3 separate regions of the Homo sapiens genome follow, and all the other regions are linked to region 3. Evidence: fine-mapped expression QTL. A gene starts in region 3. Each other region holds a variant in brackets. All regions are shown on one strand. Distances are from middle to middle.

Region 1 (8,184 bases), 110 kb before region 3:
CTCTTCAAATGTAGCAGGAGAAACTGAATATATAATCCTTTAGTTGTCAGGCTCTTTAATACACAACAATTACGAGCTTGAGCTTTGGAGTTAAACATTCAGGATTGAATTCTGAGTCCACCACTTGATAACTGCCTACCTCTAGGCAATCTCCTTTAGCTATCTAAATCTTGGTTTCCTACGGACAATAATGCTGTTTAACTAAAAGGATTGTTGTCAGCCTTCACACAGTGCTTGGCACACGGTAAGTGCTCAATAAATATTAGCAATGTGAGCTATCATTAGTATTTTATCATTATAATTGGCAATCATACTTCTGACAAACTATAACGTACAAACCATTTCATTTTTATTTTCTTCCTCTAGGAGCTATATAACAGCCAATAAACACTTTATAGGTACATTATTCTAGTCTGTGAACAAGTGTGAATTACACATTTGAATAGGGTGAATTTAGAGGAAGCTGTTATCTTCCCTGACATTATTCCAGTAACGGAAGCCACTTCATTGTGAGAGGAAGAGTCTGCAGAGGTGAAGAAATGTTGTTTGGGTTCTTTTGTTAAGTCACTTCTTCAAAAGTGATGGTAAGTGTTACAGTCACCAAGGTGACTGTAAAAAAAAATACGTAAAATGAAAATAGATGCATTAAAAAATAATATTTTATTCACAAACTAGACATCTAACAAAGGTCTAATATTCAGAACCTTTAAGGAACTTAATTGAACAAGCAAAAAACAAATAATCGCATTAAAAATGGGCAAAAGACATGAATAGACAATTCTCAGAAGAAGACATACAAACGGCCAACAAACATATTTTAAGAATGCATATGTACCCTAAAACTTAAAGTATAATAATAATAAAAGAAAAAAAAAACATTGGCAGCATTTATAAGAACTAACTAGTTATAAGTAGTTCACTAAGAATGACCTCATCACAGGTTTTAGCTGAAACAATATAAAACTAAAGAGGTCAAAAAAAAAAAAAAAAAGAATGCTCAGTATCACTAATCATCAGAGAAATGCAAATCAAAATCACAATGTGATACCATCTCACACCAGTCAGAATGGCTATTACTAAAAAGTCAAAAAATAACAGATGCTGGTGAGGTGCAGAGAAAAGGGAATGCTTATACATGGTAGATAGGAATGTAAGTTAGTTCAGCCACTGTGGAAAGCAGTCTGGAATCAGCCTTGGTGCCCATCAACAGTGGGCTGGGCAAAGAAAATGTGGTATATATACACAATGGGATACTACACAGCTATTAAAAAAAGAACAAAATCATGTCCTTTGTAGCAACATGGAGGAAGCTGAAGGCCATTATAAGCAAATTAACACAGGAGCAGAAAACCAAATACCTCATGTTCTCACTTATAAGTGGGAGCCACACATTGAGTACCAATGGACATATAGATGGCAACAATACACGGGACTATAGAGGTGGGGGAAGGGTACAGAGTTGAAAAACCTAACTATTGTATACTATGCTCAGTACTTGGGTAACGAGACCATTCATACCCCAAACCTCAGCATCACACAGTATACCAATGTAACAAATCTGCACACGTACCCCCAAATCTAAAACAAGCTGAAAAAAAATAATTTTTAAACAAAAAGAAAGGATGCTTAATGGGTCACAGCCAACAAAACAGTGACTTAAATAATGGCATCATGCAACACATTTCACTTTGTCTGGTCAGTCTCAGTCAGAAATCTAACTGCTAAGATTGATTTTCATTAATCATCCAAATAATAAGCCAAAAATACTGTTTTATGTAAAGGAAGGCTTAAACACAAATGATAGTAGGCGATGAGGAGCATGAGAAAAAAAGTTGTAAAGCTGATGGAAAATGAAAAATAAACAAGTAACTGCACAGATAGTCAAAAAAGAAAGCAAAATCTTCCAAAGAAATTGCCTTTGCTGTTAACAAGTAAAATAGACCTTTCTCCTAAACAATCCGGAATGCTTTATTAACTATTCTTATCATTTCCAGATGCTTTTTCAAATGATGACCTACTTCCCATGCTCCTTTATTCAGTTAAAAAAAAATGAGTATGTGCTTACTACACCCCTACACTCAGTACTAATGGCTGAGATGTAATAGTAGATGGGCATAGACTTGGCTTCTAGGAACTCCTAGTTTTAGGAGTCAGATAAATAAATAGTCAATGATGACATGATGTGATTAGAACTGTGATGGAAGTAAGGACAGGTACGAGAGAAGGAAGGACAGATGAATGGACAGATAGAAGAAAATTGTGGGGCTTTCACCTACCTGAAAGATTAAGAAAGGTGTTCTGGTGGAAATGACATTTAACCTAAGGCCTTCAGAAAATCAAATTTAGGAGTCCAAAAGTGAGCTATTGGCTTAGGATTTAGTTCTAAGGGCTGAAAGATGCAGAGGGAATTGAAAATAGTGTTATAATTCTAGGATGTGTTCTTTGGAGGAAAGTTAAGAAGACACGAAATGTAATTTTAAGATGATAATGTGTAACAATCCACTTAACCCAACTGTCAGCTCCCTATAATAATATTTCAATTTCAAATCTGTTCCCTTCTCTTAAGTTATGAAATTCACATTTCCAGAGACATCTAAATTAGATCATAAGTTTCTTAGATTCCTGACCTGGTAAAAAATATACATGGTATGAAGAGAACAGTACTGTGTTCATTTAAAGCCACCAAATATGGAACTAGAAATCAGAAGAAAACCAGAGATGGCAAAATTTAGACCAATGGCAACTCACTCATCTATGCTGGTAATTTCACTACCCTTCATCCTGACCAAACCCAATCATAAATGTCAATCAGCCTATCTCAAAATTAGTGATATTTAGAACTTCACCTAGCAATTCTAGAAAGCTTTTGGCTTGCAAGGTATCTATGAAAGAAAGAGTGGAAGTTTTGCACCCCTTTCATCTAATCAAAATTCAAAATTTCTTCCCCCTTCTATTGTTATTCATTTATGAGCACAGATGTGCAAAAACCAATTCATTTTAAAGTCAAATACTAAATATGATGACTTACATCTGTACAAAAATCTGAAGTGCAGTACCGATACTAATGCGGTGACATCAGCAAGGCCAAACAGGAAGCTGAGGTATAGCCCCCATCACACACAGACACTCTCTCTCGGTCTCTCTCTCTCTCTCTCTCACACACACACACCCCTACACACAAACACACACACACACACACCCCAAAAGTGTCTCAGCTATAATATTGCATTCACTTAACGAATAGCCTTATTGCAAAACTTTGTGGTTTGTGACTAGGGTCTATTGTGCCAGGAAAAATATCTCCCTCTGTGCATGTTAAGCTTCTTCTGACAAGAAGCACTAGAAAGATACAAACCACCTATGTTCTTAGCAAGAATGACTCATTATTATTGGCACAAGGAGAATACAACTTTGTGGTAAGGCTTTTTGTTCTCAACTTGAAAATACCTAATCTGATATCCTAAAGCCTGGAGAAGAAAAAAAGAAGGATATCTTCAACTATTATCCTCCTCACTAGGGATTTAAGAAGGAAAGGACAATGGCTAAGGTGTGTGATAAGGTTACATCCTGCTTGACCCACCGTGTTTCCTGGAACAGAACCACTTGGGCTTGGGCCCGAGTTCACTTAAAGTGAGATGGAATGAGGCAAAATGATGTTCCTGATCTATTTTCTATTTCTTTTATTCCACTTATCCTGGAAAGTCAGGAGGAAATCATCCTCAAACTCTCCTCTGTTAACTGAGTGGGATAGCCTTACAAATTGAGTTTGGTTTATAAGCAATGACTGTGTTTTCGGTTTGTTTTGCCCCCAGCATCTAAGACAATGTTCTGGACACAGTAGACCCTTACCTTAATAGAGGCTCTTTTGTTCCAGCTTTTGTCTACCCCGTCACTTAAAGTGTCCCGTGTCACACAACGGGACAGTGTGGCAGTCTAATAGTTTCTAGGGAAAGGTGGGGAAGGAAAAAACAACAAATGAAGAGAAGTCTCAGTTCCTTTCTTAGCTGGTGATTGCATGAGCCATGCCCTGATCTCCCACCAGAAAGGAACTTGGCAGGGAGGGGCTTTGTCTGGTAAGATGTGAAAATGGGTGCTTTGCTTTCATTGCTCCTTCCTAACTTCCAACTTCCTTCTTTTTTACCTCCTTTTCTAAGCCTCTTAAAATAGAAATGTCCCACTAACACCCAGACGTTGTTGACTTGCAATATGATTTGTGGTCTCCAAAAGAAAATGCTAAAAAATTGTTTTAAAAAATTCAGGTCAGATCAGGACTTCCCCAACCCCCTCAGCAACAGCCAGTATGGGAATCCAGTTAACAAAAGAAAATGCTGAAAGGAAAAAAAAATAAAGGCTAAGTACTTAAAACACAAAGAACTGGTAATAGATAAGTACCATGAATTTTTCAACCCCACCCCTGCAACATATCCCACAAAATTATTCTCAGCTGTACATTTGCATAAACCAAGAAAATTCTAGCTTTGGAGAACATTTATAGAGTACACAGTTTACCACAGGAAC[AC/A]CCTTTTGGGTTAAGGCACAACTTCATGTTTAAAAGCAGAGAAAAGACTTAACTTCTGCATCTCAATTGTCACCTGAGTTTCAATTGATGTAGCAGCTCATGTCCCTCTCAAGTAGATATCAAGAAATTATCCATGTCAAGTTCAGTAGGAAGTGAGTATCCTCAAATCATCTGTTCCTGAATAAGGAATGAGATTAGATTTTTTTTAAAAATATCAGCTAGTCAAACACAGGGCACACAGTATGCGTTTAATAAGTACCTGCTGACTGAGAAGACACATGGTACAGTAGTTTAGAACACGGGCTTGAAGTCGGCCTGCTTGGCTTTAAAATCTTGTCCTGATCACCAGCTGTCTTACCAGCTGCCCCAGAACCCTCGTCTATAAAATGGGCATGATGACAATAATAGTGCCTACCTCACAGGACTGCTGTGAGGATTAAATGAGTTAATACAGTGGCTTTCCAAGTAGGGTCCCCAGGCCAGTAGTATCAGCATCAGCATTACCTGAGAACATGTCAGAAATGCAAATTCTTAGGACCCACCCCAGGCCAGGGAATTCCAGTGCATATTCAAGCAAGGGAAACAGACTAAATAATTTTAGGCATATTGCTTTCCTCTGGGATTTTATGGTCATGTCTAAGGGAAAGGTGGTACATTGCCTCTCACTCGGACAGAAGAAGGGGATAAAAGTAGAAGAGAAGAGAGGTATTTTATCTTACTAGTGGAGATCATCCATGTACACCTACACACGGTACAGCTTACCAGAGTGAGCTCTTACGTAAAATTAGATCGTCCAGTATAAAAAGCGAAAGGGTCACACTGGAAATGCAAAACTCAGTAAAGAAAATGTATCTCAGTTGTGCTTGCTATTAGATTCAGGATTATTTTCAAAAAGGAAATCCCATGAAGAGTCTAGTTGTGGTCCTCTCACTAAAATATTATAAAGAGTTTAATTTTATCTTACAATTGCTAAGCACATTGTGACCATTCACTACTTTTATTTGCATTCACTACTTTTTTTTTTTTTGAGACAGAGTTTCACTCTGTTTCCCAAGCCGGAGTGCAGTGGCTCCATCTCGGCTCACTGCAACTCCACCTCCCATGTTCAAGCGATTCTCCTGCCTCAGCCTCCTGAGTAGCTGGGATTACAGTTGTGCGCCACCATGCCCGGCTAATTTTTGTATTTTTAGTAGAGATGGGTTTTCACCATGTTGGCCAGGCTAGTCTCAAACTCCTGACCTCAAATGACCCACCCACCTTGGCCTCCCAACGTGCTAGGATTACGGGCGTGAGCCACTGCGCTCGGCCCACCATTCACCACTTTTTTATTGTGCTGTTGAATATCACTTCAAACATTAAATTCATATTATAAAAATCATGAATCTTTACCAGTAATACAATTTGAGAAAAATAAAAATTAAGTTGCTGAAGCAAAATACCTTATGTTTAAAAGGAAGACCCTAGGCAACAACGATTCTCTAACTCTGAAGGGATGCTGTTTAAAATGTACGTTTCTGGGCTCCTTTCCTCAGAGATTCTAATTCGTAGGTCTGGAATAATGCCAGGGACTCTGAAATTTTAAAAGTCTCTTCCCCCCAACTCTGATTCCACACCAAGTCATTCAGAAGCAGTGGTTGATAGATTACAATATGCTAAAAGTTTTTATCTTTAAATAACCTTAAATGAGTAATATCTTCTGATTAAGCAAAGTCTTCAGAGCTAAGAGCTAATCCTTTATACATGGGAAAGGTTTAAACTCTCTTTGATAGAAAGCTTCCTAAAATGTATTCCACATTTCTCTATCATCTAACACATAACACGTAGGATATAATTTACTCTTGATGACTGAGGTTTGTTTATTATTGTTATGATTGATATGTGCTATAGTTGCCGGGAGCATTCAACAGAGTTGACTGAAACATGGATCCCTAAAATGGCTCTACAACTCGAAAAAGTTCTGAACGTCAGGTTTAGCTTTTGAGTCATTTCCCCCGCTGTCAAGGTGGCAAATATATAGCCCAAGAAGGTGGCTTTTGAGTCATTTCCCGCAAGGTCAAGGTGGTAAATGTGCAGCCTCAGAACCTCAAGGATAATGCGACAGAGCTGCAAAATGAATGGTTGCTCCAAAGATGGAAGCAGCCTTTGTAAAACTGCCTTAGTGACAGTTAACTTTTCAACATCATACAATTTTTGTTAACACCATGCAAAAACCTATGGTGTTCAGCAGCATAGCATACTCTATACCGTAACCAACCCTCTTACTGAAGAAAAGACATAGTGGATAAATTGCACTTCCAAAAGTTCTTTTGAATACCTCAATGAACTGGCAACAACGTAAGACCTGTTATAGATTGAATTGTATACCCCCCAAATTCATACGTTGAAATCTTGATTCCCCCAAATCTCAGAAAGTGTCCTTGTTTGGAAATACGGTCATTGCATATGTAATTAGTTTAGATGAGATCATTCTGGAATAGGATAAGCCCCCAATCCAATATGACTGGTGTCCTTATAAAAGAGGAAAATGTGCTAGCTGGGTGCAGTGGCTCATGCCTGTAATCCCAGTATTTTGGGAGGCCAAGGTGGGCAAATCACCTGAGGTCAGGAGTTCAAGACTAGCCTGGCCAACATGGTGAAACCCCGTCTCTACTAAAAATACAAAAATTAGCCAAGCATGGTGGTGTGTGCCTGTAATCCCAGCTGCTTGGGAGGCTGAGGCTGGAGAATCACTTGAACCTGGGAGGTGGAGGGTGCAATGAGCTGAGATCATGTCATTACACTCCAGCCTGGGTTACAAGATCAAAACTCTATCTCAAAAAAAAAAAAAAAAAAAAAAAAAAGAGGAAAATGTGGACACAGACACATACATAGGGAAAATGTCATGGGAGGATGAAGGCATGGATCAGAGTGATGCTTATATAAGCCAAGGAGAGAAGCCTGGAATGGATCCTTTTCTCATTGCCCTCAGAAGGAACCAACCCTGCCATCATCTGGATTTTGAACTTTGAGACAATACACTTCTGGTGTTTAAGTCACTAAGTTTGAGGTGTTTTGTTACAACAGCCCTAGCAAACTAATACAAAACCCAAAAACATAAGGCAAGTCTTGAAGCTAGTTTTCACTTTGAAGACACTGATAGAACCTAGTGACCTTAAGCTACCTTTTTCTAGCCTCCCAGGATGCTGAATACCAGAATCAAAGAACCAATGCATATAATGTGCCAAATTAAATTGCAGAAACCACCCACATACACACGGTCTTAGCCCATTCTAAGGAAAATTGTCTGTCTCAAACCTAGGCATTGAGTGAAAGAGATAAATATTTCTCTTGAGAAATCATAATCAGAAGGATGTCCCCACAATCTTTATGGCCTAAATGCACATTAGCTACATGGTCCAAATATCTGGTAGTGTCCTCAAGCATCTAGTAAGAGGAAACACAAATCCTCTCAGGAACTCACCTTCAACTGGCTTCAGTGAAATATGAACTCATCATCAAAAAAATCACAAAATAAGCAAGTTAATAAGGTACCATGAGTAAGAGCCAGCACAAATAACAGCAGAATACAACCCACAGGGATCTTGGATATTAAAATTAGCAAACACGGAATATAAAATATATTGTTTGACATGTTTAAAAATATTTTTAAAAATTGGAAATATAAG
Region 2 (8,184 bases), 86 kb before region 3:
TCTCCTGGTGATTCTTATGAGCCCTAAAGTTTTAAGAAACACTGATCCAGAAACAAATACTAGATTACCACGGACCGTGCCACTCATCTTAACTGAGTAACTGTTATTCAGAAATAAAGGTGAAAATAAAAAGGAAATGTCAAAAAGACTAGCATTTGCCAGGGAAAACTGGCATGTTCTTGCTGGCATTTAGATTTTTTTAAATCAGGAAGAAGGAGAGTGAAGTATATGCAAAATGGTCTACATGAATAAACTCAGGACAGTCAGAATGTGACACCCCCCAACTTGCAGCCAGATAACTGCCCCATGTTCTGCTTCACCGGGGCCTCCCAGGCCTGCCTGAAAACCAGCAAGCAGGTGAGGCTCCTTGTGCACAGAACTCTCCCTTTACCTGTTTCCCTCTTCTTCCCTGGGCAGCACCATCTGTGGCTCTTTTTTTTTTTTTTTTTTTTTTTTTTGAGATGGAGTCTTGCACTGTCATCTGGGCTGGAGTGCAGTGGCGCGATCTCGGCTCACCACAGCCTCTGCCTCCCGGGTTCAAGTAATTCTCCTGCCTCAGCCTCCCAAGTAGCTGGGATTACAGGTGCCCACCACCACGTCCAGCTATATTTTTTTGTATTTTTAGTAGAGATGGGATTTCACCATATTGGTCAGGCTGGTCTCGAACTCCTGACCTTGTGATTTGCTGGCCTCAGCTTCCCAAAGTGCTGGGATTACAGGCATGAGCCACCGCACTTGGCTCATCTGTGGCTCTTTCTAAGAATCACTGCAATAGATGATGGACCAGAACAACTCAGCGAGGGCTGCCCCACTTCCCGCCCCGGGGATGAGAGGGGAGCCGCGCCATACCATGATTGAGATGCCTGACGCAGTCACTCAGGAGGGCACTAAACCTCTTCTGGTCAGCAGCCTCGTGGAAGCAGAAGTAGCCGTGTCTGAAGAAGGGCTGCCACAGGTACACTGGGAATTCCTTGGGCAGGACCACAAAGGGCTGAGTGTTCTCCTTCTCACTGGAGGCTAAAGAAATATTGAAAACACAAATACCTTTTAAAACATGTATCTTTTATTTCAAATGTGTGTTTCAGGTCGTGAGGGTGACTATCTGGGGCAGGCCATGGGATGGAAAGTTGGTGAGATATTTTCACAGGATAGGGAAACTGGGAGCACTGGCTCCTCTGGCATCCCTCCACCAGCTTCCCCTGTCCCACTGCGGTCTGCCTGGCCTCCTACCCAACATCACAGGGACAGTGAGGATACCAGGAACACAATTTTTTCTCTTTTTTGAGACAGAGTCTCGCTCTGTCACCCAGGCTGGAGTACAGTGGCACAATCTTTGCTCACTGCAACCTCCACCTCCCAGATTCAAATGATTCTCCTGCCTCAGCCTCCTGAGTAGCTGGGATTATAGGCGCATACCACCACCTCCAGCTAATTTTTGTCTTTTTAGTAGAGACAGGGTTTCACCTTGTTGGCCAGGCTCCTGACCTCAAGTGATCTGCCCGCCTCAGCCTCTCGAGTAGCTGGGATTACAGGCATAAGCCACCGCACCCGGCTAGTTTTTTTGTATTATTTGTAGAGACAGGGTTTTGCCATGTTGCCCAGGCTGATCTCAAACTCCTGAGCTCAAGCGAGCCACCTGACTTTGCCTCCCAAAGTGCTGGGATTACAGGCATGAGCCACCGCGCCCAGCCTGGGCACAATCTTTCTCAACTTCCTTATGTCTAAAGACCCACAAACGGAGCTTCCTCTGCCCTCCTGCCCCTCTGCAGGCCACTGACAACCTGTGCACCCCCTCACTCTACTGGCCCTGCAGGCTCCAGCTCCAACAGGGCAGCTCTCTGCCCTGCACTCTCTCCCTCCTCCCTGTCACTGCCAAACACCACTTGCTGTTTTTATGCCATCAACCTTATTCTCACCTCAGTCTGATTCCTGTCCCCACCAGCTCCTGAAACCCAACTGCTGAAGCCATTTATGTCATCCTGACTGCCAGCCTATGGCTGCTTCTTTTCATCTGACCTGGAATATTTGCTGCTGCTAACAACCCCTTCTTTTGAAAACATTATCTCCCCATGACTTCCAGGAGTGCCTCTCTCCTGGTTTCCTTCATGCTTTGTAGAATTTTGTTTCTTCTTTATCACCTTTATTGGTTCCTCTGCTGACTCTCTCCATCTCCTCGCTAAGCATCGGTGCCTGCCCTGTTCTGTGCTGGCTTCCCCTCCACTCTCAGTCTGTACCCTCCCAGGGTGTGTTCACCCATTCCGTGACTTTTTATATTGTTCCTACAGTCCATAGAACCCTCTCTTCCCTCCTTTCCATCATGCTTTCCCATAAAAAAATTCTCATTCATCCTTCAAAAGTCAGTTCAAAAGCCACTCCTCTGGGATGCCTTTGCTGGCACATCCCACTGCCACCAGAGACAGAGTTAGGTGCTTCCTACCCTGTTCTCCCCAAATACTGCAATGACCTGTTTTCATGCCCAGCGCCCACACTCAGGGTAGGGAGGCGGGGGAGGGGAATGAGATGGATTCCCGTGCTGTTCCCCTCCGCAAGGAGCAGAACCACTGCTACCCACTGTGAACGTCTAGAGATGCAGACTGCATCTTCCATAGCTTTGTATCCTTAGCCCACAGCACAGTCATGGAACATAGCAGATGTTCAACTTCAGTTTGTTGAGTGAAAAATGTGCTTTGTTGGCCTAGGATATTTTTTTAAAGCCCTAGACAATGGGACTTTTACCTCTTCCCTCAAAATCAATTCCAAGCAACTCATTTTAAACCGACTACTATTCAGAACCCCTACCTAAACTTTACTCCTTTCCATGCATTCCTATTACATGATATTGCACTTGGTTAAATGAGTTCCAACTTTTTCCAGAGTCACAGAAAATAAGCAGAAGAAAATGTTAGTTCTGTGCTTCCTGCATATGTATTAAGCACCAATCTCAGGGAAAGGTAAGGAAGAAGGTCTCTCTAAGAGGCCATTGAAAGCACTGGGAATACAAGGAAATGAATCATGACCACATGGGAGTCTACAGAACCGCATCAGTTCTGGCAAATTAATAAATCAGGATTGCTCATGCCTGTAATCCCAGCACTTTGGGAGGCCAAGGAGGGTAGATCATGAGGTCAGGAGTTCAAGACCAGCCTGACCAACATAGTGAAAACCCATCTCTACTAAAAATACAAAAATTAGCCGGGAGTGGTGGCATGCACCTGTAATCCCAGCTATTCAGGAGGCTGAGGCAGGAGAATCACTTGAACCCGGGAGGCAGAGGTTGCAGTGAGCCGAGATCATGCCACTGCACTCCAGCCTGGGTGACAGAGCGAAACTCCATCTCAAAATCAATCAGTCAATCAATCAATCCGTATTGGTTTAAATAAAGAATAAATTTCTGGGGATATATGGGAGCCCTGTTCCAGTGTCCTGGAATCTGAAGGTAACAGAGGAGAATGCACCACCAGCACAAGCCATGGCCCACCAGGACCTAGCACAATGCTGGGAATGAATCAACATGAAAACGAGCAAATGAATGAATGATTGAATGCTATAGAGACACCTGTAGTTGTAACACAGTATCTATTTCCCTTTCTGGGGAGAATAAGGCCCCTGATTTTTAGTTGGGCAAGTGACTACATAAAATAAGACTACATTTCCAGCCTCCTTTGCAGCTTGGTGAGCCCACAGCTACTAAGATCTGTCCAGTAAGATATAAGCTGAAGTGGCATATGAAACTTCCTGGAGGTATCTCTAAAGAAAGTGAATGTACCCTCCTCCTTTCCTTTTCTCCTCCCTATTATCTGGAATGAGAATGCTATGGTAGGAGCTCAGCAGCCACCCTGGACCCTGCCAAAAGGGGCCACAACCTAGAAATAAAGGGGGAGAAAGCAAGAAAGAGCCTGAGCTTCAGACAAATTTAGTCCACACCAGCCCTGAACTAATATCGAAATATCTTTAGTGAGATAATAAAACTTTGAGTTTTTTATTGTATGCAGTAAATGAGATTCTAACCAGTAAAATGCCAAACAAGTGAATTACTTTAACAAAACACGGGGGCATTTTTTTCTGTATCAACTTAGCTGAACACTCTGTAAAGAATACACTTATTGGCCAGGCATGGTGGCTTATGCCTATAATCCCAGCACTTTGGGAGGCCAAGGCAGGAGGGTCACTTGAGCTCAGGAGTTGAAGACCAACTTGGGTAACAGAGTGAGACCATTGTCTC[T/C]GCAGTTCTTTGTTTGTTTTTTTGCTTGTTTTGTTTTTCTGGGCATAGTGGCATGTAGCTGTGGTCCCAGCAACTCGAGAGTCTGAGGTGGGAGGATTACTTGAGCCCAGGAGGTCGAGGCTACAGTGAGCCATGATCACATCACTGCATTCCAGCCTGGGCAACAGAGTGAGACTCTGTCTCAAAAGAAAAAAGAAAAAGAAATGCACTTATTCATAAGCCTCTAGTGCTTTTTCCAAGAAATGCACTTATTCATAAGCATCCCATCTTTATTATGCCTTTATTCTTTCTGGTAGAAATAATATCACAGAGTCAGTCTTCTTGACTGACATGGTTCTATCAAACAATCCTCCTTGCCCTCTCCAAGAATGTCATAATTTTGTACAAGCAACCAAAAGCAACATTGATCCTTTGCATTTAAAAAGCCTCAACAAACCCATAAAATTCATTCCTTTTAGCCTCTAGTTATCTCTCAACCTTTTACAACAATTTTCCAGATGCCATCAGTGAATTTTTTCTGAGTTACAAGAATATCACAACTGATCTACTGTAGAATATTCTATTTTAAAAGTCAGAAGGTCACAACACACAATTTTAAAAAGTCATTAAAATGCCCCAATCTGAAGCCTTGGGCCAACTGGGATTAATCACACAGGACTTGTGTTTTTTAGTCCTTTTCATTCCCTCCAATATGATTACAGCAATAAATCAATAAACATATTGTCTCTTCTGGCTGATTTCATTGGAAAGTTTTAGAGAGATTTGGATGAGTCAACATGTTGGTATTCCCATTTCTAGCTGCAGCTCCACTGCCAAGGGCATATAAGTAGATGTAAAAGAAAATATAATAATATGCATAGTGCACATAAAGTGTTGTTTTAGCATGAATTACTTAGTAATAATTTGTTAATCTTAGTTTATGGTCCATGTACCAATCCTGTAATTGTGTTATTAAAAACACTATGTTAAGCACTCAGCACCGAAATAACAATTGATAAAATGATTATGTTTTTCTCCATAAATTCTAATGAAATTATTATGTCCGTTAATAAGAACCAGGGCTCTCTTCAAGAACCAAGTAATTACTATGTAGTATGATTTATGCAAAGCCAAATGGAGTTATTACATTATCCACACTTCATGAATCTCTATGAATTGCCTTATTTAGTCTATATATTATCCATCATTTCTCCACATGTAAAAAGTGGAATGAATGAGAATCAAAGAAGGTTAGACCTAGAAAGACCCTTCTAGGTTTTTAAGTTCAAAGCCCTGTTTTTGAGTTGGAGAAACAGAAACCAGAGCTGTTCAGCAGCCGGCTAAGCTAAAGCATTTGGTAAGTGGCACAGCCAGAACTAGATAAAAATCCAATCTCCCAATTATCTTTCCATGGCAGCATCCCAGCTTTATTTATAGATATGCAAATTAATGCAATGCTTTTTTTTTTCACAGTAGCTATGAGTTACTGTAACACTTATTAAAAGGTTTTTTGTCTATTTAGGGTATTTAGTTGCATATCATCCTAAAATTAGAAAAATAGTATTCCCTGACAGGTCCAGGCTTGCTTACTAGAAGATGGGATTGTATATTTCATGGACTGGGCCCTACCTGTTTATTTCTGCTGCCTTGTGGAGTGCTATCAAAGCCTGCAATATATTCCAAAAGCTTCAAGATACCTGGCTGACAGCACATTTTCCATGTGCTAGAAACACAGAGACTGACTGTGTATTATTGAATGGGATTAGAAATAATGGAAGTGGTAAAATGTTTTCCTCAACTAGAGAAATCACATCTTCCACTTGTCTATGGGACATGAGTGACTAGCCCAGGGTTTCTCAACCTTGGCACTACTGATACTTTGTACCAGATAACTCTTCCTTGTTAGGGTCTGTCCTGTGCATGGTAGGATGTTTTGTAGCATCCCTGGCCTCTATTCACTAAATGCCATAGCACCCCGATTCCAATTGTGACAAACAAAAATGTCTCCAGATGCTGCCAAATGTCCCTGGAGGGAAATCCCTCTCCTTCACAGAGAAACACTGCTCCAGCTAAACAAAGAAGCTTAGTCATTTTGCCTTGGAAAAGAATGATCAGCAACTCACCAAGAGGGTCTGGGAAATGCCTGTCAGACAACAGATTATATTCATCTTCTGAGGTTAACACCTTGCCACCGGCTGGAAGAATTCGACATTTAGGAGCAGCTCCTCTCTGATAGGCCTGGGGAGGGAAAGGCACACAGGAATGATATCTTTTTCCCCATTTGATTTTTGGAAAATATCAGGGATATAACAAATAGACAGATTCAGACATTCAGAGATAGCAATCCCCATACTATGTTATTGAGTTATAGTCATTTACTCAAAAAATATGTTTTGAATACCTGCTAATGGCAAGGTAATATTTTAATACTTTCATGTGACAGTCACAACATGGTAAATCAGAGTCCCTAATCTCAGGGAGATTTACCCTAGGTATGTTCTCGAATGTGGAAAACATAATCTCAGTAACCCTGAAAGTCTGCACCACATTTGCCATTTCAGATGCTAACAACTAAATCATTCTGATAATAACCACAAAGGTGACGATCACACAAATACTGCACAGAATGCTTGGTGACTGATGTGGGCCACATAGGATGACTAATGAGACTGTGGAACACGTAGCTGCAATGATAGTTACCATGGATTTTCATCAAAACATGAAAATGTTGGCATAAAATATGCCACTATTTTGCCCTCAGATGTGAAACTGTTTTGCAGCAAAATGGTTGAGATGGAAGTACAGCACTGTGACATCAGAACAAATGCTGGCCAGCAGACAAGAAGCTCTGCTATTTGAGACACAGAAAAGAGGCACAGGGCATTGCCAAAGCAGTTTGGTAAGCACCTATGCCCACAAGGACATGCAGATAAGATAACATTTAAGTATGTGCATCTGACGGGAGGGCTTAAGTCAAGGCAAAATTCTGAAACTAGTAATCTAAAGGCAAGTTGAGAATTGAAACTAAGAAAGTTTGAGACCCAAAATCTAGAATTTACTCTTGGAAATGACTAAATAATGTTGATCTGACCAACATAATCAGAGTAACGATAACACGTTCTGCAGCAATAAGATAGTGAAGAGATCCAAATGAAACAAACTCTCAGATATCTAAATTACTTGTAACAACGACTAATCAACTGCTTAAGCATGTGAGGGAACCAGAATATACCCACTAACACAGAATTCTGGCAGCCTGACCTATTCATCCTAAGAAAGACGATTGGAGGACTCTTCTGAATAAATGATTAACCCAGGAAGGAGGATCTATACATAATTGAGGGCTCCCCATGAAATAATACCTTACAGCTCTAAGAACTCCCACAGAGCTACATTATAGTGAAACAATAATGTTGAGAGAAGAATCTAAACTTGTATGATATTAAGAAGATTTACAAGCAATTTGATTTAGACTGGACTCAAAAGTGAATTGTATTACTAGTTATAACAGGCCCCAATATTGGCTTTTATAAGCATTATACCACTTAATCCTCAAAACAGTACTATGCATTACATGTTATCTCCATTTTTCAAATGGGAAACATGAAGCTCAAAGAGACTGAATAACTTGCCCATGGCCCAGCAGTGAGTAGGTGACACATCCAGGATTTATATTCATGCCTGTCCAGCCCCAGTGCACACAAAATAGAAACTGATTATCAAGTGAGAATGTTTTACTTTTCCTGTTTAATTGCCAGCCAGAATTGGACTCTAAATAAAATAATAGATGACTTACAGGTACTTAATGCATAATTCTTAGATATAATTTTATAAGATACTTCCATAAATTAAAAAAAGAAGATATTATTAAAACTTCAAGAAATTATGACAAACTGCGTGGACTTTAAAAGAATTCCAAGTTTCAAAAAACACTTGGTTATTACCAAATTAAGTCACCATATCTTAACAATTTGAACAGGTTC
Region 3 (8,184 bases):
GGGCTCAGGCAATCCTACTGCTTCAGCCTCCCAAAGTGCCGGGATTACAGGTGTGAGCCACCAAACCTGGCCAGGAGTTTTAATGCCTGAACAAAACTGGAGTTCTGTTAGAAAAAGGAATGGGGGCTGGGCACAGAGGCTCATGCCTGTAATCCCAGAACTTTAGGAGGCCAAGGCAGGTGGCTCACTTGAGCTCAGGAGTTTGAGATTAGCCTGGGAAACATGGCGAAACCCCGTCTCTACAAAAAAATACAAAAAAACTACCTGGGCATGGTGGCACATGCCTGTACCCCCAGCTACTAAGGAGGGTGAGGTGGGAGGATCGCTTGAGCCCAGGGAGGTCGAGGCTGCAGTGAGCCATGACTGTCCCACTGCACTCTAGTCTGGGTGACAGAGTGAGACCCTGTCTCAAAAAAAAAAAAAAAAAAAATGGAGGAGTGGGAAAAAGATGTTGGGTTGACATACCACGGTGTCTACCATAATGCATTTCCTAACTTTCTCATCATAGTATATTGCCATTACTAGCCAACTTGGACTCTAAGATCACACTACCAAAAATATTCAGGTTAAGTCAGACCAGTTCTTATGCCCATCTCCCACCAACAAATTATGACCGAAGAAGCAAATGTGTGGACTAGTACGACACATCCACACTAAGTAGACTACAGATGTGTACAGCTCTCCCCATCCTCCACCTTGCCCATGGAGACTTCATTCTAGACACATCACTTTAAACTTTGTATCTAGCCACCTAAGTTAACCCTTGTATAAATAAGAGGGAACTTCCCTGAGAAAAATATGTGCTATTTTAAAGCTGAAACTCATTTCTTATTTTATAAGCATCAGATCATTGAGAAGCTTTTGGAGGAAGCCACTGGGCCCTTTATATATTATGTAACTGACTATGCAATAATAAATCCAGTGGGGGAAAACAGTTTTCCTAACTGGTATTTGCTGCTGGCAGGCCTGCAAGTGCCCACTAGGATCTGTTTATCCCATGGTTTTCAGCTGCGGCACTGACTGTCCAGTACTTTTCTGACCCTCCACAGGACTTCTTATGTGGGAGATCTTTCAGGTTTGCTTTCTTTTTGATTCGTTAAAAATTCAAGGGTAATTTTTAGAAGGAAATAAAATTATTGCATAAACAGGAAAACACAGTGTGGGGGGTTTTTTGGTTTTGTTTTGGGGTTTTTTTTTAAGCTATAGTTTAATTTCATGCATACCAAAAGCTTTACAGAAAAAGAGGCCGGGCATGGTGACTCATGCCTGTAATCCCAGCACTTTGGGAGGCCAAGGCGGGAAGACTGCTTGAGCCCAGAAGTTTGAGACCTGCCTGGGCAACATGGCAAAATCCCATCTCTACAAAAAATACAATTAGCTGGGCGTGGTGGCACACACCTGCAGTTTCAGCTACTCAGGAGGCTGAGGTGGGAGGATCACCTGAGCCAGGGGAGGTCAAGGCTCACAGTGATTGTACCACTGCACTCAGCCTGCGTAACAGAGTGAGACCCTATCTCAGAAAACTAAAAAAAGAAAAGAAAAGAAAACATGGCATAAAGAGAGAAGAGCACCCAAACTGATCACTGATGCCTGGAATCTATGAGCTTTCTTCCTCATTAAAAAAAAGATTGGCTGGGCACGGTATCTCATGCCTATAATCCCAGCACTTTGGGAGGCCGAGGCAGGCAGATCACAAGGTCAGGAGATCGAAGCCATCCTGGCCCACATGGTGAAACCCCGTCTCTACTAAAAATACAAAAATTAGCTGGGCATGGTGGTGCGTGGCTGTAATCCTAGCTATTCGGGAGGCTGAGGCAGGAGAATCACTTGGACCAGGGAGTCAGAGGTTGCAGTGATCCGAGATCGTGCCACTACACTCCAGCTTGGTGACAGAGTGAGACTCTGTCTCAAAAAAAAAGGATCATTTTAGGTCAGTGCTAAAAGCATCACTTAAGACTAACATATGACACAGCTCATGTGATCACAAGTTGGTCTCAGTATTATTTATTAATAGAAACATCTTATCAAGGGACACTACTGAAAGGCTTCTAGAAACAATCCTAAAAATTTATTCTGTTGTAAGAAACATGAGCATTGCCGTAATTTCCCAAACTAACATCTTTAGAAATGAAGTAACTCCTTAACGTAGATGATATATCTTTACCTGAAGATTAACTAAATCCTAAGAAACAATGTATTTTCAAAACATCCATATGACACAGATGTTTTGAGGCACACAAGGAATGGCAGCTGTTAAATGATTTGTCTTAAAGTAAAGGCTGATTCAGCGTCAGTAGCATACAGCGGTTTATGATGCATACAAAATAAAGTTAACAAAAGTCACTCAAAATATATTGACTAGCTACTCTCCTTGTTAGCAAAGTTTATCAAGCTTAAAAGAAAGTTATTGTCTCAGCTTCAGGAGCTTTCAAATCTATATTTCACTGATGGCTACTTTATGAGAAACAGGTCATAAAAGTATATTTAAACTTTACTGTCATACTTCCAATCGTTTTGCTTACAATTGAATCAAAGCTTGAGAATATTTATAGGCTAAAAAATGGGCAAAGAGGTAAAGATAGGGCTATGATTTTACTCAGGAACCTGGGCTTCAAAACCATCAGGAAATCACAGCCCTGTGACCCTCATTTGCTCATGCACTAACAATGTACAACACCATGCATTTTTCCAAGGTTCTTTTCTCTTTTGGCAAGACTAGCATTCTCACATGAAGTGATGAGTCTTTTTCCCTGGAGGTATTCTAACTTTAACTCTTCTCTTCCCTCTCCCACTACACATACCTTGCAAGTGCCCTCCTGAATATAGAATGAAGAGAGAAAGCTGAACAAGACTGGGAAATGTAATGACTGTCACACCATATGCTATAGGTTTACTCATTCAAACACTTGCATTACAAGTTCTTCATCTGCCCTAACTCCCTCGTACTTTTGTATATGTAATAATTTAATAGCTTTCAGAATAAAGAAATTAATAGCATTTTCTTATTATCTGAGTACAATGTTTGCATCAATAGCAACAAATGGCACGGCCAGGAAGTCTTCTTTAAGCATGTTAATCCTTCACATTGCTTAACTTCAAATGATTAGTGTACTTGGCCATGCGTCCACATTAGGTGCTCCTAAGCTTTCCAGTGAAATAAAGTCTTATATAAATGCCTTAAACACAACTTTGCTAACATTCAAATGCAAGCCCTTTCTCACTACGTTCTGTTGATTGCCCTTTCAGTCCCTATACACTGGTAACACAAGCATGTAGCCACATTTTTAAGACTAAGGCAGGCTTCATTTATTTCTTTTAAGCTTAGTTCAGCTCTTTTACTAATATAAATAAATCATCCGTCTTTTCCCCTTTAACAAACAAAAGCAAAGAGATACTTGACCAAGTGTTATCCCCTGACAGTACAGGTTGTTGAGGATCTTTTACCTCCAAAAGCACCAGAGCAGGAATCTGTAAAATCAGCTCCGTTGCTCTTCACGTACCCTGATTTGATATCTTTTTAAAACGGTCTTAAATGTTGTGGTGACTGAAAACAAATGTGGAATAAGAACACCAAATAAATGATTTCCTCTTAGGAAAGGATTCAAGGGCCAAATAAACCTAGAGTTTAATACATAGTCTGGAAGATATTTCTGAAGCCGAGGGTGGGGGATCTGGCGGCGGGGCGGGGGAAAGACAGTAAATTGGTAAGATAACCAAATGTTAGGTAGCGGTTGAAGGCAAGTTTGGGGTGGGGGGTGAGAAGAGGGGAGGCCAAATACGCCCAGGAAATAAAGGAGATAACGAGTCAGGACTTCCTGCAGTTTCAGTTCGGTTTGGGTTTTGTTTTGTTTGTTTTGCAGCCTCACGCTCTCTACTGAGTCCCCACATCTCTGAGGGTCTCCCTAAATGAGTTTCTCCCCATCTGTAACTTTCGGGCAGTTACAAAGCACGCCAGTGTTCCTCTTTTGCTTCGCCCCTCTCCGGGGCGGGAAGGGAACGGCATGACATTGTCCTTTTTGCCGCTGATGAAATCATCCTGCAAGTGCTAGGATGAAGTGCGAGCGAAGCTGCGGCCAACGCCGCGCTTTCCAAAGCCAGGCCAACATTACTAAGAGGGAAATTCTGCTTTAGCTGCCGGGAATCCCCAGGGGTATCTCTAGAAACGCGGGATATCCCCGCTGCTCTCTTGGCGGCCAGTTCAGAAACCGCTCAGAACTCAGTCCAGGGCAGGTACTGGAGGGCGAAGTGCGCCGGGCGGGGGCGGCACTGACCCCGAGGCGGCGGGAGCGGCGAAGGCGCCGGCGTCCCCACCCGCATCCTGCACCTGCCTCGCTCCCAAGCCCTCCCGGTCCCCGGTCCACACCCGCGCCGGAGCGCGCCGGCTGGGGCAGGAAACCCGACTCGCGCGGGCGGGCTGCGGTCGGGGATCCCCGCGCGCTACAGGGAGAGGGCCCGGGGCGCGCCCCTTGGGGCCCCGACCGCGGCAGCCAGCCTGGTGCACGGGTCAGGGTGCTCCCCAGGCCCCCGGGCGGGCGGGCGTACCTCGGATGTAAGCGCACTTGCCCTCGTCCAGCTGGCTGGAGGCTGAGCCGCCCATGACCGCGAGCTGCCTGTGCTGAGCGCGGAAACTGCCCGGTCCGCGCCCGCTGCTAGCTCCTGGAGGTTGATCCGACGGCGAACCCGGCTCTGAAATTAAGAGCAAACTTCCTTCGAGAGGCGAGAGACAGGAGGCAAGAGGCGTCGCCTTCTGGGGCGCCTCCTCCAGGTCCGCGCCTTCTGATGATCCGTGGGCCGGCCCGGGGGCTGTCTTCCCGCCCTCGCCTAGCTGGTGAGCTCCGACGGGCTGGCAACCGAGGAGGTCGGCCAGCTCCTCCTCCTCGCCCACGGTCACTTCTTGTTTTCATCCCTTTGGGGCATCCAAGAAACACCTTGGAGGAAGTGGACCATTTCTCAAGTGACTAAATCTCTGTGAGCTGGAACTTTCCCAGCTCACATCCTTCGAGGTGGAGCTCAAGATCACGTTGCCTTGTAAGTGTTGCTGTCCAAGAAGCAACAGTTCTTCCCAAGCATTACCTGGGAGCCTGTTAGAAATACAAAATCTCAGCGCTTTCGTCCACCACCCCTCTACACACACACAGACACACACACACTTAGAATCTGTGGGAGTGGAGCCCAGCAATCTGTGTTTGCACAAACCCTCCAGGGAATTCTGATGCCCGCTGAAGTTTGAGAACTAGAGGTAAACTATACCTTTCTGCAGGCGAGAACCTGGACCAAGGAGGGAGTGGGGAAATGAGGAAAAAAGGAAAGAGAAAAAAAAATGGAAAGACAGGGAAAAACTAAGGCTTGGTCCTGCAATATACTCCCAGCCCTGAAACTTCCTAAGACTTGATGAACGTCTGTCCTTACCCCTTTACTTTCCATTCCTCTCCTTAACTGGAAATCAATCATTAGAAAAGATATTTGTTCTTTTCCCACAACCACTATTTAGCTTGGCAGCCTCTCGGAACAAGACCCACTTGGGCAGAGGGGTCACCGCTGATTTCATCCTATTCTTAGTAGTCAGTTATTTTGCGACTCCTATTGACTTAACCTCAAGGTCAAATGGTCTGTATACACTAGAACCAGGCCTGAGGAGGACTTTGAAGGCTTTCCCACACACCCCCGCCTTCCCTATTAGCTAACTTGCACTTTAACACAATTATTTCATCACACTCACACCCAATCTCTCACACTCTACATTCCAATCTGTCAGTAAATCCTGTCAATTCAGCTTTTAAATATGTCCAATAGCCAACCAATTCTCATCCCCTCTACTGACATCCCATATCATTCCTCACCTTATTCATTACACTAGCTGCCTAACTGATCTACCTTCTTCAGAGAAAAGCCACGACGTCTATCAGGGCCTAGGTGGAGTTTCCTCTGTGATCTTCTCTACCACCACTCCTTGTTCTCTCTGTTCCAGCCCTACTAGCCTTTTTTTTTACTCTTTCTGAGACACATCAAGCTCAGGGCCTTTGCACTTGTTTTTCATTTCTGTAGGATGCTCTTCCTTCAGATATTCACATAGGTTACTCTCTCAGTCATTTCATTCAAGCCTCCACTTTAATGCTAGTAATTCAGAGAGGTTCTCCTTGACCCAGGAACACCAGCCATCACCTCTCTCTGCCACTTGCTCTTCATTATTTCTGTTTCATATCACTTAGTATCATCTAACACATATTTCTTTGTCTATCTTCCCCCACTGCGATGTAAACTCTATAAGATCAGGGATTTTCTTTGTTGTTATTGTTGTTTCTTGGGGCTTTTTCCCTCAAAATTTCTGTTTCCTTTTTTATTATTATTTTTCCTCTTATGGCAGGGATTTTTTTGTCTATTCTGTCCTCTGCTGTATTTCAAATGCCTAGAAGAGCACCTAGCATGTAGTAGGTGTCCAGTAGATAACCACTGAATAAGTGAATGAATGAAAAATAAAATGTAAAAATCTGTACTCAACAAAAACTGTGATCTCAAGCATTTCCAGATAACAACTCAATGATTTAAAATATTTAGTGTTGAACTCTTCTCTCAATACTCTAGTTGGCTCCTAGAATTAAGTGTATCTTCTTGGAGAAGTAATTTCTTTGACTATATAAATTGCTATAACTGTGCCTCAGAATACTGTTATTGTTATTGAAGAAAACTAGCTTGGATCTCCTGCCAGAAGTGTAGTTTTAGCTTGTCACCTCTACTTCAGGAATACTCTGAGAAAGGACTGATTATCCTCATCTACCCTTATCCACTCATTTGTAAATATTCACGGATGAAACAGAGTACAAAGATGGATTCACACAAACAAATGGAAAAACATTCAATGCTCATAGATAAGAAGAATCAATATTGTTAAAATGGTCATACTGCCCAGAGCAATGTACAGATTCAAAGCTCTTCCTATCAAACTACCAAAGACATGCCTCACAGAATTAGAAAAAAACTATTCTAAAATTCAGATGAAACTAAAAAAGAGCCTGAATAGCTAGTGCAATCCTAAGCAAAAAGAACAAAGCTGTTGGCATGGCATGATCTGACTTCAAACTATACTAGAAGGGTACAGTCACCAAAACAGCATAATGCTGGTACAAAAACAGTATACCAAAAATATTGGACAAAAACAGATACATAGACCAATGGAACAGAATAGAGAAATAAACCAGAAATAAAGGTGCACACCTACAACCATCTGATCTTCAACAAAGCTGACAAAAGCAATGGGGAAAGGACTCTCCCTATTCAATAAATGGTGCTGGAATAACTGGCTAGCCATATGCAGGTGATTGAAACTCGACCCCTTCTTTTTTCTTTTTTTTTAGACGGAGTCTTGCTCTGTCACCAGGCTGGAGTGCAGTGCCGCTACCTCGGCTCACTGCAACCTCTGCCTCTTGAGTTCAAGGGATTCTCCTGCCTCAGCCTCCTGAGTAGATGGGACTACAGGCGTGTGCCACCACACCCAGCTAATTTTGTATTTTTAATAGAGATGGGGTTTCACCATTTTGGCCAGGATGGTCTCGATCTCTTGACCTCATGATTCGCCCGCCTCGGCCTCTCAAAGTGCTGGGATTACAGGCGTGAGCCACCATGCCCGGCTGGACCCATTCTTTATATTATACCATACACAAAAATCAACTCAAGATGGATTAAAGACTTAAGTGTAAAACCCAAAACTACAAAAACTCTTGAAGAAATCTAGGAATACCATTCTAGACATAGGCACTGGCAAAGATTTCATGATGAAGACATGAAAAGCAGTTGCAACAAGAACAAAAATTGACAAATGGGACCTGATTTGACTAAAGAGCTTCTGCACAGCAAAAGAAACTATCAACAGAGTAAATAGACAACTCAGAGAATGGGAGAATATATTTGTGAACTATGCATCTAACAGAGATCTAATATCCAGAATCTGTAAGAAATTTAAAGTAGCAAGTAATAAACAAACAACTCCATTAAAAAGTGGGCAAAGGACATAAGCAGACACTTTTCCAAAGAAGACATATACACAGCCAACAAGCATATGAAAAAATGCTCAACATCACTAATCATTAGAGAAATACAAATCAAAACCACAATGAGATACCATCTCATACCAGTTAGAGAGCTATTATTAAAAAGTTCCGGTGGGGTGCAGTGGCTCACGCCTGTAAT

Evidence for each region. PIP is the estimated chance that this variant, and not a neighbour inherited with it, causes the effect.
Region 1: its variant is fine-mapped to the expression of NIBAN1 in blood mononuclear cells (TOPMed, PIP above 0.99).
Region 2: its variant is fine-mapped to the expression of NIBAN1 in whole blood (INTERVAL, PIP 0.90).

What each region holds. Positions count from the first base shown.
Region 1 is chr1:184,864,015-184,872,198 of GRCh38, forward strand. All of the region lies in intron 5 of NIBAN1 (niban apoptosis regulator 1), which reads right to left. Among named protein-coding and RNA genes, the nearest start is that of NIBAN1, 110 kb to the right of the region's middle. The variant AC/A (reference allele first, on the strand shown) is at 4,519.
Region 2 is chr1:184,883,784-184,891,967 of GRCh38, forward strand. NIBAN1 (niban apoptosis regulator 1) reads right to left here. Exons shown (of 14, transcript NM_052966.4): 4 at 6,325-6,439; 5 at 850-1,017. Among named protein-coding and RNA genes, the nearest start is that of NIBAN1, 87 kb to the right of the region's middle. The variant T/C (reference allele first, on the strand shown) is at 4,223.
Region 3 is chr1:184,969,760-184,977,943 of GRCh38, forward strand. It overlaps NIBAN1 (niban apoptosis regulator 1), which reads right to left and starts at 4,749. Exons shown (of 14, transcript NM_052966.4): 1 at 4,543-4,749. The coding sequence starts at 4,597. RefSeq lists an enhancer at 3,934-4,103 and a silencer at 4,214-4,533.